Linked DNA regions of Homo sapiens. The protein of the gene in region 1 purifies or fractionates together with the protein of each later gene. This does not show direct contact. Each region holds a gene or a part of one and is shown on either strand. Other genes may lie near its edges.

Region 1 (3,500 bases):
TCACTCCATATGCAGTATGTTGGTTATCAACATACTGTCCTTAGCTTGGGGCAGTATCCCTGATTTTGAGACAATTAGAAAAATCTGACCCAAATTCTATTTTGCATTTTCTCATTTAATAAAAATATACTCATATATTTATTTAAAATATGTTTATTTAGTGCCTAATATATTGCAGGCCATCCTCATATCCCGATGCAGAAGGAAAGTGTCATTCTCCTATTTGTACACTGGTACCTCCCCTTCACCTCACATGGCACCCAGCATTGTAATTTTTATATGACTGGTGCCATCACATGATGCTGAAATAAAGCTATCATACTGAGATCCCACCTTGACCTATAACCAGACCCTCAGAGCATCTTGAGCCAAGACAGAGAACATAAGAGATGATTCCATGTTTATTTCCAGGAACTCCAGAAGAAGAGTTCCAGGTGAAATAGCCTCAGACTTTAGTGTCAGTCAATCCCGGAGATGTCCTAACCCTGGCCTGCAATATGTCTGCTCTGTCCCCAGAAGGGCCTGTCTTGTGGTTCAAGAGCATTGGGCCAGGACAACAATTAATCTTTAGTTGCAATGGAAGCCACTTCCCCAGAGTAACTCCAGTGGAAAACACAATGGTTGATCAAACTGACTATTCCATTCGCATCAGTGACGTGTTGCCAGAGGATGCTGGCACCTACTACTGTGTGAAGTTAAGGGTAGGACACCCTGACATGGAGTTTTTCTCTGGTCCAGGCACCACCGTGTATGTGAATGGTGAGCACAGCCTGATGCACTTTATTCCCTGGGTTTATGAAGATGAATCTTTAAAACCCTTCACCATGTACCAAATCATCACTACATACTGAACACCATGCTCCTTTATCCACGAACTACCCTGTAGACTAGGTTTCTTCTAATAGCCTTTCTAGTAAGCCATTCTGGACAACCTGTGCCAAATACTGAATCAAGCTATGTTGACAAGCCACATCCTTCTCTGATGCCAACCCCACCAGAACCCAATGACATAGGAGACATTTACAAATAAAAAGATACTGGATATGCAAGGTGCAACTACATGTGTGCACTGCATGGCCTAAATGGTAAGAAAACTGGGTCCTAGAAGGCTGACTGACTTCTAAGGTTTTACGAAGAAACCTGGGCCCAGGTATATGCATTGTGTATATTATGACTTATTCCATGACCCTGAACTTCCAGTCACAGATGCTAGTAGCCACATCTTAGCTTCTGATGGAATCTCAACATAGGTGAAGTTTTCCCCAAAATGCCCAGTATCTCCTGGGCCAAAACAAAGGGCTCTTCAGGCAGGTAGAATCTCTACATGCCTCCATGATCCCAGTCACCTTCCCATTACCAACTGGAATGTGATGGGGACCTGATAGCAAGTACCTGAGTGGTCACCACAGTCCAGTCTGAGATCACACTCCCATTCCCCATACAAGTCAATGAGTGGATGTGATCTCCTACCATGGCCTGGCACTGTTGTTAGGGAATTCTTAGACCAGAATGAGGGGTCTTGTGTATCAATCTCTCCAAAGTCTTTTTTGCAAAAAGCCTTCCCATAGGGGTTGAGTCATTCCCTGACACTTGAACTTTCCCAGGTCTGTCCTGAGACTTCCATGCCCAGCCCCACTGTTCTTTAATTCCCAGTATTTTTATTCCCAGGATAACCAGTATTTCCTTCTCCTCACCACCCTCTGAATTAACGTCATGAAATACAGTGGTATTAGGTGTCCCTCAGTTCTACCAGGAGAACTGACCTTCCCAGTAATGTTTCCCTTGAATCCAGACACATTCCATAATGCCAAAATGGCAATGGAAAATCCACAGGTTTCCCTTAAGTTACATAATGTCAATGCAGGCTGCCTTCCTACCATTACCTCCTGGCCCTGCCAGCCAGGAGTTCCCTTTCTCTCTAACCTGCTCCTTAGGCAGTCTGTGGTTTTGACAACCAAGCTTAATAGGAGAGATTATTACCAGGACCTGACACATTGTAGGGTAGTGATGATGACTGTGTAGGAGGGTAAAGGGTGGCTGGTGAGAACCTCCAAAATTGTAGAGGGCCCTTGAGGTTCTAATCTCTTTTTGTTGAGGAGAGGAAACCCTCTCCCTTCTCTCTCTTGAAGAGATAAGTAGTGGAACCATATGCTGTTGCCAAGACCACCTCATTCTTTAATTGTTTTAACTTCTTCTGTGCATCTCTCAGCATGAATTTCTGTACAAATTCAGAGGCTAATCACCCTTCAGAGGAGAGAGGAAGGCCAACCCCAAACTCAGTGGAGATGTAGGGTTGAAGGACAGGACTTGAACCCAGTTCCAAATGTACCGAGTGACTCTAGGCAATTAGATGGATAGGGAAACTAGTCTTTCTCCAAGAACATTACCCATTGATAATTGCCCCTTCTCTCTCCCTGTCCTCCTCTTACCACGGTTGAGGGCTGAGGAATGGAACTGAGGAGGAATACATCTGGTCTTCTGGACTAACTCCCTTCCTTCAGCACTCTAGGGAGAAGCTGCCTCCATGTGCAAAGGCCTCTCTTTACTCAATGCATGGGCATTTGCGCATGTCATTAAAAGAATTAATGAATGAGGCCCAACCGTGACCCGTACCCATGCTTAAGCCAGAACAGGGGAAATGAGAAATGATTTTCAGCTTTTTTCCAGGAGTCACACATGTGTTCCATGTGCAACAAACGGAGATGTCACAGACTGTATCAACTGGGGAGTCAATCATCTTGAGTTGCAGCGTACCCAATACCTTACCAAATGGACCTGTCTTGTGGTTCAAGGGAACAGGGCCAAACCGGAAATTAATCTACAATTTCAAACAAGGTAACTTTCCCAGAGTAAAAGAGATTGGAGACACCACCAAGCCTGGCAACACAGACTTTTCCACCCGCATCCGTGAAATCTCTCTTGCTGATGCTGGCACCTATTACTGCGTGAAGTTCATAAAAGGAAGAGCTATCAAGGAGTACCAATCAGGTCGGGGCACTCAGGTGTTTGTTACTGGTGAGTATGTCTCCTATACCCCATACCCCCTGGTGTATAATATCATCTCAGCAGTTATGTCTTCTATTCATTCAATAATTGCTATGTGCCAAATATTATTGAAGGTACAACATACATTTGATCTTTTTAATTCTCTCAGCAAGCTGTGAGTTAGGTATTTTACAGGAAGAAAAAAAGACTTGAAAAGGTTGAGTGATGAGTGATAAGAGCTATTTTGGTTGATTTCTCAATATTTAATCCACCCCCATGACTAACCTAAGCCAACTAGGATAATTCCATGTTCCCTGCTAGAGGTTTACTCAAATATGGGCTGAACTTGGCCAGTTTGGGTCTATCAGAGAAAAAGACAGGCTTGCAGAAAAATCTGGTAATCTAAAGTAATTCTTCCCTTTGTTGGCTGGAAACAAGCAACTGTGTTGCTCCAGGTGCTTTAAGCAGGCATCTTATGACCATGAGGGGAATAAGGTTGAGAAAAAGTCTAGATG
Region 2 (4,234 bases), on another chromosome or scaffold:
TCAGCTGCAGACAGGCCTTTGGGAGTCTTCCACCTTTTGGGGATTGTGATGGCTACTTCTGACCTGCACCTCGCCCAGAGCAAGGGGCTGGCCGAGCCCAGTAGGCGCCTTGTTCCTGTTTGGCCTGGGAGGGCCCTGGGGTTGAGGGAGGGCCTGGTCAGTGGGATCCAGCCTCCCACTGCCACTGAGCCATCTGGCCTCATCTGTCCGACTGCCACTGGTGAACTCATCTGTCCACCATGAGTTTCGAGCGCCGGGTGGCAGGAGGTTTGGGGGCAGGGGACGGAATGTTCACATCTTCAGGCTGCACAGTCTATGCTGGTCCTTGCAGTCCCCGGCTAAAGCTTCTGTCGTCCGTAAGGGGTTCAGTATGTAGTGGGACCCCTTTGCTTGTGCCTTAGGCCTTCTGTGATCTGACCTGTCGTCCCCACCCACCACCCATGCCCTGGGGTTTCACTGGGCTGCCAAGAGCTCCTTCCTCAGGCCCTTGACCCAGGCTGTCTGCTCTCCCCCATTCTCTTCCTGTCCACCTGGCCAGCCACTGCCCACTTCCTCCCATCAGGCCAACTCAGCAGTCCCGGATGCTGGGAATCCCACACTGCTCCAGCCTGAGGCTACAGTGTGTTTGCGAATCGCCTGTTTCTGCTTGTTTCATCTTGGTGGGGGCTGCTCCTGTGGCCCAGGGGTGTCCTCCCAGCTCCTGTGTCTCCACGTGCTGCAGGCCTGCAGGGGTGCCCGTGGCTGCTCCATTCACGCCCCTCCAGGAGCCCCGTCTGGCCCGGGGTCGGTCATCCGGCAACTATGGGGTGCCGCTAGGTCTGAGGAAAGGGGCCTAAGCCTGCGGGCTGCGCGCTCTTCAGCAGGACCCCCTCCTGCAGACGGCCTTACCAAAACCCGAGGCCTGGCCCCGCTCCAAGGCGCAGCCCCCAGGCCAGGCCTTCCCCGCCTCTGGAGTCATGACCCCTCTCCTCTGGGGCTCCACCGGCCTCTGGTCAGCAGGACCGGACCTGGTTGGGAGGGATGTGGCCAACAGGCCCAGGTCCCAGTGTTAGGAAGGAGCAGGCCCGGCCGCCCGCGAGGCGGAACCACCAGGTGGGCCACCTTCCCTACCGCCACCCCGAGGTTCCAGTGGACATCAAAACCTCGGCTCCATCAGAGGCTCCAGGACTCCGATCGGGACAGCGCGGGGGGCGAGGCCAGGGTGAGGGCGCGGCGAAGGAGAGACGCACAGCGCGGGGCGGGCAAGGAGCCTCCCTTCCGCGCCAAGGCCCCCCCCAACCCTCGAGGCGCTTGGACCGTGGGATAGTCCTCCGGCGGCGCCCGAGCTCCGGCCCCGCCCCCGCTCCGCCCCGCGCCTGCTATTGGCGGAAAGTTCCGGGCCGCGCCGCGACTGGCCGACACGCCGCAGGCCCCGCCCCCTTCCCGACCCGCTCCAAGGCGGCCCCGGCGCTGGGGCTGCGCGGCAGGCGGAGCGGCCGCGGGCTTGGGGGCTTCGCCGGGGCCGGGCGGCCGGCGCCCCCGGCTGCTCCCGCCGCCGCCCGGACCCGCGCCCCGCCGGGGCAGCGGTGGTGAGAGCCCCGACTCCCCGGACGCCGCCCGCCGTGCCATGGGGTTCCCGGCCGCGGCGCTGCTCTGCGCGCTGTGCTGCGGCCTCCTGGCCCCGGCTGCCCGCGCCGGCTACTCCGAGGAGCGCTGCAGCTGGAGGGGCAGGTACGGTCCGGGGGGCTGTCCCCGCACTTAGGACGGGGTGCGCTGCGGCTAGGACCCCCCAGGCGCCCCTCGGAGCGCGCAGAGCGCTGGGCCGGTTTCCCCATCCGCGAGGCGGCCTCGGGAGGGAGCGGGGGCTGCGCCGGGCGGGGACCCGCCCCCGTCTCAGCGCCCCGTCCCGTCCTGTCCCCAGCGGCCTCACCCAGGAGCCCGGCAGCGTGGGGCAGCTGGCCCTGGCCTGTGCGGAGGGCGCGGTTGAGTGGCTGTACCCGGCTGGGGCGCTGCGCCTGACCCTGGGCGGCCCCGATCCCAGAGCGCGGCCCGGCATCGCCTGTCTGCGGCCGGTGCGGCCCTTCGCGGGCGCCCAGGTCTTCGCGGAGCGCGCAGGGGGCGCCCTGGAGCTGCTGCTGGCCGAGGGCCCGGGCCCGGCAGGGGGCCGCTGCGTGCGCTGGGGTCCCCGCGAGCGCCGGGCCCTCTTCCTGCAGGCCACGCCGCACCAGGACATCAGCCGCCGCGTGGCCGCCTTCCGCTTTGAGCTGCGCGAGGACGGGCGCCCCGAGCTGCCCCCGCAGGCCCACGGTCTCGGCGTAGACGGTGAGTGGCGGTCTGGTTGGGACAGGGTGGGAGTCCCGAAGTCTTACCCTGCCTGGGCTTGGCGGGAATGTGCCTTGTCGGCCCCACTGCAGAAGGAAAAAGTGAGCTACAAGGGTTGGATGGGCTTGTCAGGCCACACAGCCTGGGACTGCTGGGGAGGGATGGCCTCCCCGCCCTCCCTTCCCGATTCATCTCTGGAAAGAGCTGGCAGGGGCAGAGTGGAGGGAAGGGGAGGCCGGGCCCAGCAATCCTGGGCCTCTGGTCCCTGAACGGTTGGGGGAAGAGATGGTGGGGACAGAATCGAAGCCTCCGGCCAAAGCTGTCCGGGGCTCCCTGGCCCAGCGGTGACCTCTCTCCCCTCCCCCAGCCCAACCAACAAAAGTCCAGTGTGCAGCCCGGTCACCATGGAGACGCCGCTCGCCTCCCTGCAGGGCACCAGGCCCAGCTCTTGCTTGGCTCTCCTGGAGCTTGGCGCCTGACCCTGAAAGGGATGGGCTCTCGCTATTCTGCCCCCTGGCCCTGGGCCAGGGACCCCAGACCACCCTTCCTCTGCCCCCACTTCCTATCACCCTAGCTGGGCTGCTGCTCTTCAGACCTCAGATCCGGGAAACTAGAGGGGTCCCAGATGCTGGGGTGCATATGTCAGATGGGAGTGCAGGAGGGCGGCCCAGGACAGCTGATCGCTAGGCATGGCCCCCAGGCCCACGTCTGTGTGCATTCCTGCCTTGGAGGTACGCGCCTGCAAGTGTGTTTCCTGAGTACAGGTGTCGCCGAGGGCGTGCACATCTGCTGTGTAGCTCTCTGGGACCCCCAGGTGCCATCAGGCCCTGAGCGTGGGCTCTGCTCATTTGCCTGCTGCCTCCTGCCGCTTGTGCGGACAAGGGACGGGGCCTGGGGTGATGCCGGGAGAGGGCAGGGCCTCTCCTCACCACCCCCTCTGCATGCCAGGTGCCTGCAGGCCCTGCAGCGACGCTGAGCTGCTCCTGGCCGCATGCACCAGCGACTTCGGTGAGTGTCCCCGCCATGGGGGGAGCCTGGAGCCTGCCTTCCCCTGAATGCCTACCGCAGCCACATGCCTCCCCACAGTAATTCACGGGATCATCCATGGGGTCACCCATGACGTGGAGCTGCAGGAGTCTGTCATCACTGTGGTGGCCGCCCGTGTCCTCCGCCAGACACCGCCGCTGTTCCAGGCGGGGCGATCCGGGGACCAGGGGCTGACCTCCATTCGTACCCCACTGCGCTGTGGCGTCCACCCGGGCCCAGGCACCTTCCTCTTCATGGGCTGGAGCCGCTTTGGGGAGGCCCGGCTGGGCTGTGCCCCACGATTCCAGGAGTTCCGCCGTGCCTACGAGGCTGCCCGTGCTGCCCACCTCCACCCCTGCGAGGTGGCGCTGCACTGAGGGGCTGGGTGCTGGGGAGGGGCTGGTAGGAGGGAGGGTGGGCCCACTGCTTTGGAGGTGATGGGACTATCAATAAGAACTCTGTTCACGCAAGCTGCTGTGGACCTGGTCTCCTGTGTCCAGCCCAGCCTTGGGCCTGCCTCGCAGCTGTGAGGATGGCTCCAATTCCTGCCTCCTGGCGGGAGACTGAGGCTCAGGGGAATGGTATCTTGTTCAAGACCATTTGGCAACTGAGAGGGAGAGCAGATGTCAGGAGGAGCTACACCCACATTCCGGGGAGGGGCCGCTGCTGGGTGGGGGGCACGTGGGGACCTGCACTCATGCAAGCTTCTGCTCTGCTGCACCCACCAGCCCCGTCCTTGCCCGCACCCTTGCCTGCTTCCCTGGCTGGCTCCCACTTGCCTCCCGTGCCAGGTGCTTCTGGGGCTCAGCAGGAGAGGAAAGGGGCAGAGGGGCATAGGGTCCCTCGGGTACGGTGGGGGCAGGCGGGCGCACAGCGCTCCGGCTCTGAGCCAGGCCTGTGAGGGAAG
Region 3 (3,500 bases), on another chromosome or scaffold:
ATGGGGGCCAAATCGAGTGGGTCATGACAAGTGTCAGGAAAAAAAGGATTAGAATAGAATACATTAGAAAATAGTGGGTACCATTTGTGTCATATCTCTGTATATAAAGGACATACATTTTTAAATTTCTATCTGAAAGAAAAGTTTCCGTTCACTAGATTGTGATCAATGCAAAATGTATTCTGAGTGCTCGGTGCTGTCAGCAATGCTGAACTTCCCTATGAAAATTCCAATGACATTCTTTACAGAATTAGAAAGAACAATCCTAAACTTTGTATGGAACCACAAGGGACCCTGAATAGCCAAAGCAATCCTAAGCAAAAAGAACAAAGATAGAGGCATAGAAACGGACATATAGACCAATGATCCAGAATAGAGAACCCAGAAATTAACCCGCAGTTTTACAGCCAGCTGATTTTTGACAAAGGTTTCAAGAACCTCTTTGGGAAAAGAGTGATCTCTTCTTCAGTGGACGCTGCTGGGAAGAAGCTGAATGTCCAAGTGCAGAATGAACGGGGCCCTAAACTACCCCTCACCCAGCACAGGGACCAACTCAAAATGGATGAGAGGCCTAAATGCAGGGCCCAAGACAATAAAATTGCTGAAGAGAATATAGGCAAAACGCTTCAGGACATTGGTCTGAGAAAAGATTTTATGAAAAGACCTCGAAAGCATAGGCAACAAAAGCAATAATAAGCAAAGGGAATTGTATCAAACAAACAAGTTTCTGCACAGCAGAGAAAACAACGAACAGAGTGAAATGAAGACAGCCTATGGAATGAGAGAAAATATTTGCAAACTACTCATCCAACAGGGGATTAATATCCAGAATACACATGCAACGGAAACATCTCAACAGCAGAAAACCATCCAACTTAAAAACGGGCAAATGATCAGAACAGACGTTTCTCAAAAGAAGACATACAAAATGCCAGCAGCCATCACTGATCATCAGGGAAATGCAAATCAAAGCCACAGTGAGGTATCAGCTCACCCCAGTTAGGGTGGCTGTTATCAAAAAGATAAAAAATAACAAATGCTAGTGAGGATGCAGAATAAAGGAAACTCTTACACACCGTTGCTGGGGATGTAAACCCGGACAGCCGCTATGGAAAACAGTACGGAAGTCCCTCCACAAACTACAAATCGAACTATTGAATACCATATGGTCCAGTAATCCCACCACTGGGAATCTGTCCAAAGGAAAGGCAATCAGCCTGTGGAAGGGATGCCCGCACCCCATGTTTATCGCAGCACTGGCCACAATAGCCAGGATGTGGAATCAACCCAGGTGTCCAACAACAGAGGATGGATAGAGAAAATGTCATTGGCATGCACCGTGGAATACTATTTAGCCATAAAAAAGAATGAAATCCTGTCACTGGCAGCAACACGGACGGAACTGGGGGACACCGTGTTATGTGAAATAAGCCAGGCACAGCAAGTTAAACACCATATGTTCCACTCATATGTGGAAGCTAAAAAAAGTTGATCTCACAGAAGTAAAAAGTAGAACAGAGGATGCTGCAGACTGGGAAGGGTAGGGGAAGGGAGGAATAGGGAGAGTTTTTTTTTTTTTTTTTTTTTTTGAGACAGTCTCTCTCTTGTCGCCCAGGCTGGAGTGCAATGGTGTGATCTCGGCTCCCTGCAACCTCCACCTCCCGGGTCCAAGCGATTCTCCTGCCTCAGCCTCCCAAGTAGTTGGGATTACAACTGTGTGCCACCATGCTCGGCTAATTTTTTTGTACTTTTAGTAGAAACAGAGTTTCACCATGTTGGCCAGGCTGGTCTTGAACTCCTAACCTCAAGTGATCCACCCACCTTGGCCTCCCAAAGTGCTGGGATTATAGGTGTGAGCCAATGCACCCAGCCAGGAGAGATAGGAGGAATAAGCTCCAGTGTTCTATAGACTGTAGGATGACTAGAGTTAACAATAATACATAGTTTCAAACAGGTAGGACGATATTGCATGTTCTCCACACGGAGAAATGAGCAATGTTTGAGATGATGGTATGTTAATTATTATCCTGCTCTGATCACCATGTATTCTATGTATCAAAACATCAGTATGTATCTCATGAATATGCACAATTATTATTTGTCTATTTAGAAAAATCAGGAAAAAAGAAAAAAAAAGTCGAACAATGATCCACGCCCACTCTCTATTGCACAAGGGAAGGCTGAGATTCAGAAAGGGGAAGGGGCTTGCCCCAGGCTACAGGGCGTCAGTGCCCAGCTGGGCCAGCGCTTCTTCTGCTCCTGGCACCCCCACTTAGTGAGGAGCTCCCAGGCTCTCCAGGGGACTCACCCCTATCTGCCTGTCCCCTGGGGTGGGTGCTGGCCCCTGCGGTCGCTCCTCCCCGCCTGTCTCTGTCCCCTGGGGTGGGTGCTGGCCCCTGCGGTCGCTCCTCCCCACCCGTCTCTGTGGGCTTGTTGCAGTAGACACTCTCCTCTTCCCCAGGCAGCAGGGGGTGTGGGTAGTAAGAACTGCCCAGGCACTGCCACCACCCGCCCACCTGGCCCACGCTGCACCTGCGTGACTCCCACCTGGATCCGCTCCATGCAGTGTTGGGGGGACTTGGCTGACACGCACTGGATCTCTGGCTTGAGCCGCTGCCGGCGGAAGGCCACGGCCATGTCTCCACACTTCTGGATCTCGGGAGTGGAGAGCACACACCAGCGCAGGTAGGGGGGCAGCCCTGGGGTGGGGCAAGCAAGCGGTCACTGCCAGGCCAGTACTGCCATGGAAGAGCATGGAGTCGGACCCAAGGGAAATTCTGGGCCTTTCTCCTGTCAGGTGTGTGGCTGGGATAAGTTATTTAACCATCGGATCCCACTTCCTCACACAGAAAAGGGGCAACTGTGAGGCCTGAGGAAGACCATGGCTGGCGTGCATGTAACTCAGTGTGTGGTACCCACTTCCCTGGCTGGAGGTGGAAGATACATGGGGCCAGGGGGCTAAAGGCAAGAAGCTCACTTGTAGACTACTGCAATAGTCCAGGCGAAAGATGGCACCTGCGCCAGGGCTGTAGCCATGGGGTAGAGGCGGGGAGTAGGAGCGAGAGGCTGTAGAAGAGCTGACAGGATGCCATGGCCGTGGATGGGGGGGCGAGGAGACCCTTCCCAAGACAGATTCTGATGGTCTGCATCCTCCCCCGCTGCGGCCAGGTGGGGCTTCCGAGGTACAACAGGCCATACAGTGGAAGAGATGCCTCCTCCCCAAAGCCCCAGGGGCAGAGGAATGGAAATGACAGGTTCCCGCAGAGGCCTCCCTGGTGAGCGTCTTCCCCCGGCCACTTTCCCAGAGAGCCTCGCCATGCCCGAGGTTGAGCTGGGCTGGAGCTGGCAGCAGTGGGGACAGGTGGACTTACGGTTGGGGTCACAGAGCAGACCCTTCATGGCGTGCAGGTACTCATGGCCCAGCCACGCCTCATAGGTCTGTGTGGCGATGGGCACAAGCTCCGAGGTAGAGTCTTTGAAGAGTAGATCCTTCTGGCCAT
Region 4 (2,515 bases), on another chromosome or scaffold:
GTTTCTCCATGTTGGTCAGGCTGGGCTTGAACTACCGACCTCAGGTGATCCGCACATCTGGGCCTCCCAAAGTGCTGGGATTACAGGCATGAGCCACCATGGCCAGCTGAAACTCGGTCTTAAAAAGAAAAAAGAAATGAGCTGCATCACGTTGGGCAAGTCACCTAAGCTTTTCATAAGCCTGTCCAGTGGGGATAATGCCACCTCCTTGTTGGTGTCGTAAGGGCTGCATTTGATGAAGTACTTGGCGATGCCTGTGTTCACTTATGGAAGAAACAGTCTTGAACCTTTTGGTGGGGAAAGCCCCCTTTCCATTTAACATTTCCATTTAGTGGTGGTCTTACTGGGGACAGAGAATGTCCTGAGAGCACAGCCCTGACAGGTCGTTGCCAGCTGTGCTCCTCCACCAGGCTCAGCTCAGGCCTAATGACCACCAGTGGTGGGTGCTGCCAAGCTGGACGTCAGCCCCGGCGGACTTTGAACTCCATGAGTAGGTCCCACGCAGGGACCTGTGGCTGGTCAGGACCCTGGCTCCCACTAGGCGCTATCTCTTCAGAAAGGCCCAAGGCTTTTCAAGGGTAACTGTCCCAGATACCCCTAGCCCTCTGCCTACCCAGTTACCAGACAGCTGGGTACCCAGCATGTAAACCTTAGTTTGCAAATAAAAGATAAACTTTTAGTGCTTTTTTTTTTTTTGGAGATGGAGTCTCACTCTGTCGCCCAGGCTGGAGTGCAGTGGCACAATCTCAGCTCACTGCAACCTCTGCGTCCTGGGTTCAAGCGATTCTCCTGCCCCAGCCTCCTGAGTAGCTGGGACCACAGGCACCCACCACCATGCCTGTATAATTTTTGTATTTTTAGTAGAGATGAGGTTTCACCATATTGTCCAGGCTGGTCTTAATCTCCTGACCTTGTGATCCGCCTGCTTTGTCCTCCCAGAGTGCTGGGATTACAGGCATGAGCCAATGTGCCCAGCCAGTTTTTGTATTTTTAATAGAGGCGGGTTTCCTCATGTTGGCCAGGCTGATCTTGAACTCCTGACCTCAGGTGATCCACCTGCCTCAGCCTCCCAAAGCACTGGGATTACAGGCGTTGGCCACCACACCTGGCCACTGTTTTGGGTTTTTTTCCCCTAACAGACTAGAAAACTAGAAATTAACACACCAGGGAACCTGGGTGTTTGGGCAGAGCAGTGGTATTTAAATATTTCAACCCATAAATTGTCACTTCAGAGCAAGCATCCTGAAACTGTAAGAGGACATTTGGCTGAGCATGGTGGCTTGTGCTTATAATCCCAGCACTTTAGGGAGGCTAAGGAGGGCAGATTGCTTGAGCCCAGTAGTTTGAGACCAGCCTGGACAACATAATGAGACCTTGTCTTTACTAAAAAATAAAAATAAAAGATTACCGGGCATGGTGGTGCTGGAGAGGCTGAGGCAGGAGGATTGCCTGAGCCCAGGAGGTTGAGGCTGCAGTGAGCTATGATTGTGTCACCGCATTCCAGCCTGGGCAACAGGGAGAAAAAAGAAAAAAAAAGACATTTCTATTTAGTGCCTACCTTAGCTCCAGACTGGTTCTAACTTGACCCATCAGAAGACATCTGAATCGCTTTGTGTCTTTTTTTTTTTTTTGTAGCACCGACGAGAGTGCTGGGGAATAAAAAGGGGATCTTCACTCGGCAGAGACAACCAAAAAGTGCAGCGTTCCTTTTGCGAGAGAGATACTGGAAGATTGCCAATGAAACCAGGTATCCCCACTCAGTAGCCAAGTCACAATGTTTGGAAAACAGCCTGTTTACTTGAGCAAGACTGATACCACCTGCGTGTCCCTTCCTCCCCGAGTCAGGGCGACTTCCACAGCAGCAGAACAAGTGCCTCCTGGACTGTTCACGGCAGACCAGAACGTTTCTGGCCTGGGTTTTGTGGTCATCTATTCTAGCAGGGAACACTAAAGGTGGAAATAAAAGATTTTCTATTATGGAAATAAAGAGTTGGCATGAAAGTGGCTACTGAAAAGCATCTGAAATCATTTCTGTGCGTCGTGCTGTTTTCAGAGCTTTAACTGTGTGTGGACTTTTGAGAAACTGCTGCTCCAACACCCCCACCACGTTCAGAGCAGCTGGTTCCCGAGGGCGTCTGCAGGAATAGCCCCATGGTCCTAGGGCCACCGTGTTTGTGTAGCAAACCAGGCCAGCCTCGACAGGGAGTGAGTAGAAGACTTTCACAGCTGCTGTTCGACTCCTCAGATGAGCTAAAGTCCCACATGTACCAACAAATTCATAGAAACGCTGTCATTGTTGCAGCACTTAACAGGGTCTGTGTGCCAGTTTCTACATAGTTAAGCTGGCAGTGTCTGAATTGGAAGGTTAGAGGTAACTGGTTCTCCCAGAACATTGTTTTGACCTCAGCCATAGGGTCTTGACAGAAATGGACAGATGAGTGTAAAAGCCTATTGGCTTTATCATAACGGATGCCACTGAATGTGACAGGACCTCCTTAAACAACTTTGCCTACAA

Evidence for each region. Proteins that work in one complex are often made in the same cells at the same time.
Region 2: the proteins of SIRPD (region 1) and METRN purify together in Homo sapiens (affinity purification with mass spectrometry; one large-scale study listed by BioGRID and IntAct). This does not show direct contact.
Region 3: the proteins of SIRPD (region 1) and MELTF purify together in Homo sapiens (affinity purification with mass spectrometry; one large-scale study listed by BioGRID and IntAct). This does not show direct contact.
Region 4: the proteins of SIRPD (region 1) and GUSB purify together in Homo sapiens (affinity purification with mass spectrometry; one large-scale study listed by BioGRID and IntAct). This does not show direct contact.

Annotation. Positions count from the first base shown.
Region 1 is NC_000020.11:1,551,206-1,554,705, reverse strand, and holds part of SIRPD (signal-regulatory protein delta isoform 1 precursor), read left to right. Parts: intron 1-2,656; exon of another isoform or gene 2,657-2,667; coding exon 2,668-3,015; intron 3,016-3,500.
Region 2 is NC_000016.10:713,684-717,917, forward strand, and holds the start of METRN (meteorin precursor), read left to right. Parts: upstream 1-1,434; 5' UTR 1,435-1,606; coding exon 1,607-1,710; intron 1,711-1,900; coding exon 1,901-2,301; intron 2,302-3,249; coding exon 3,250-3,309; intron 3,310-3,387; coding exon 3,388-3,704; 3' UTR 3,705-4,234. UniProt on the Homo sapiens protein: Involved in both glial cell differentiation and axonal network formation during neurogenesis. Promotes astrocyte differentiation and transforms cerebellar astrocytes into radial glia.
Region 3 is NC_000003.12:197,012,818-197,016,317, forward strand, and holds part of MELTF (melanotransferrin isoform 1 preproprotein), read right to left. Parts: coding exon 3,372-3,500; intron 2,700-3,371; coding exon 2,548-2,699; intron 1-2,547. UniProt on the Homo sapiens protein: Involved in iron cellular uptake. Seems to be internalized and then recycled back to the cell membrane. Binds a single atom of iron per subunit. Could also bind zinc.
Region 4 is NC_000007.14:65,960,184-65,962,698, reverse strand, and holds the end of GUSB (beta-glucuronidase isoform 1 precursor), read left to right. Parts: intron 1-1,635; coding exon 1,636-1,802; 3' UTR 1,803-2,015; downstream 2,016-2,515. UniProt on the Homo sapiens protein: Plays an important role in the degradation of dermatan and keratan sulfates.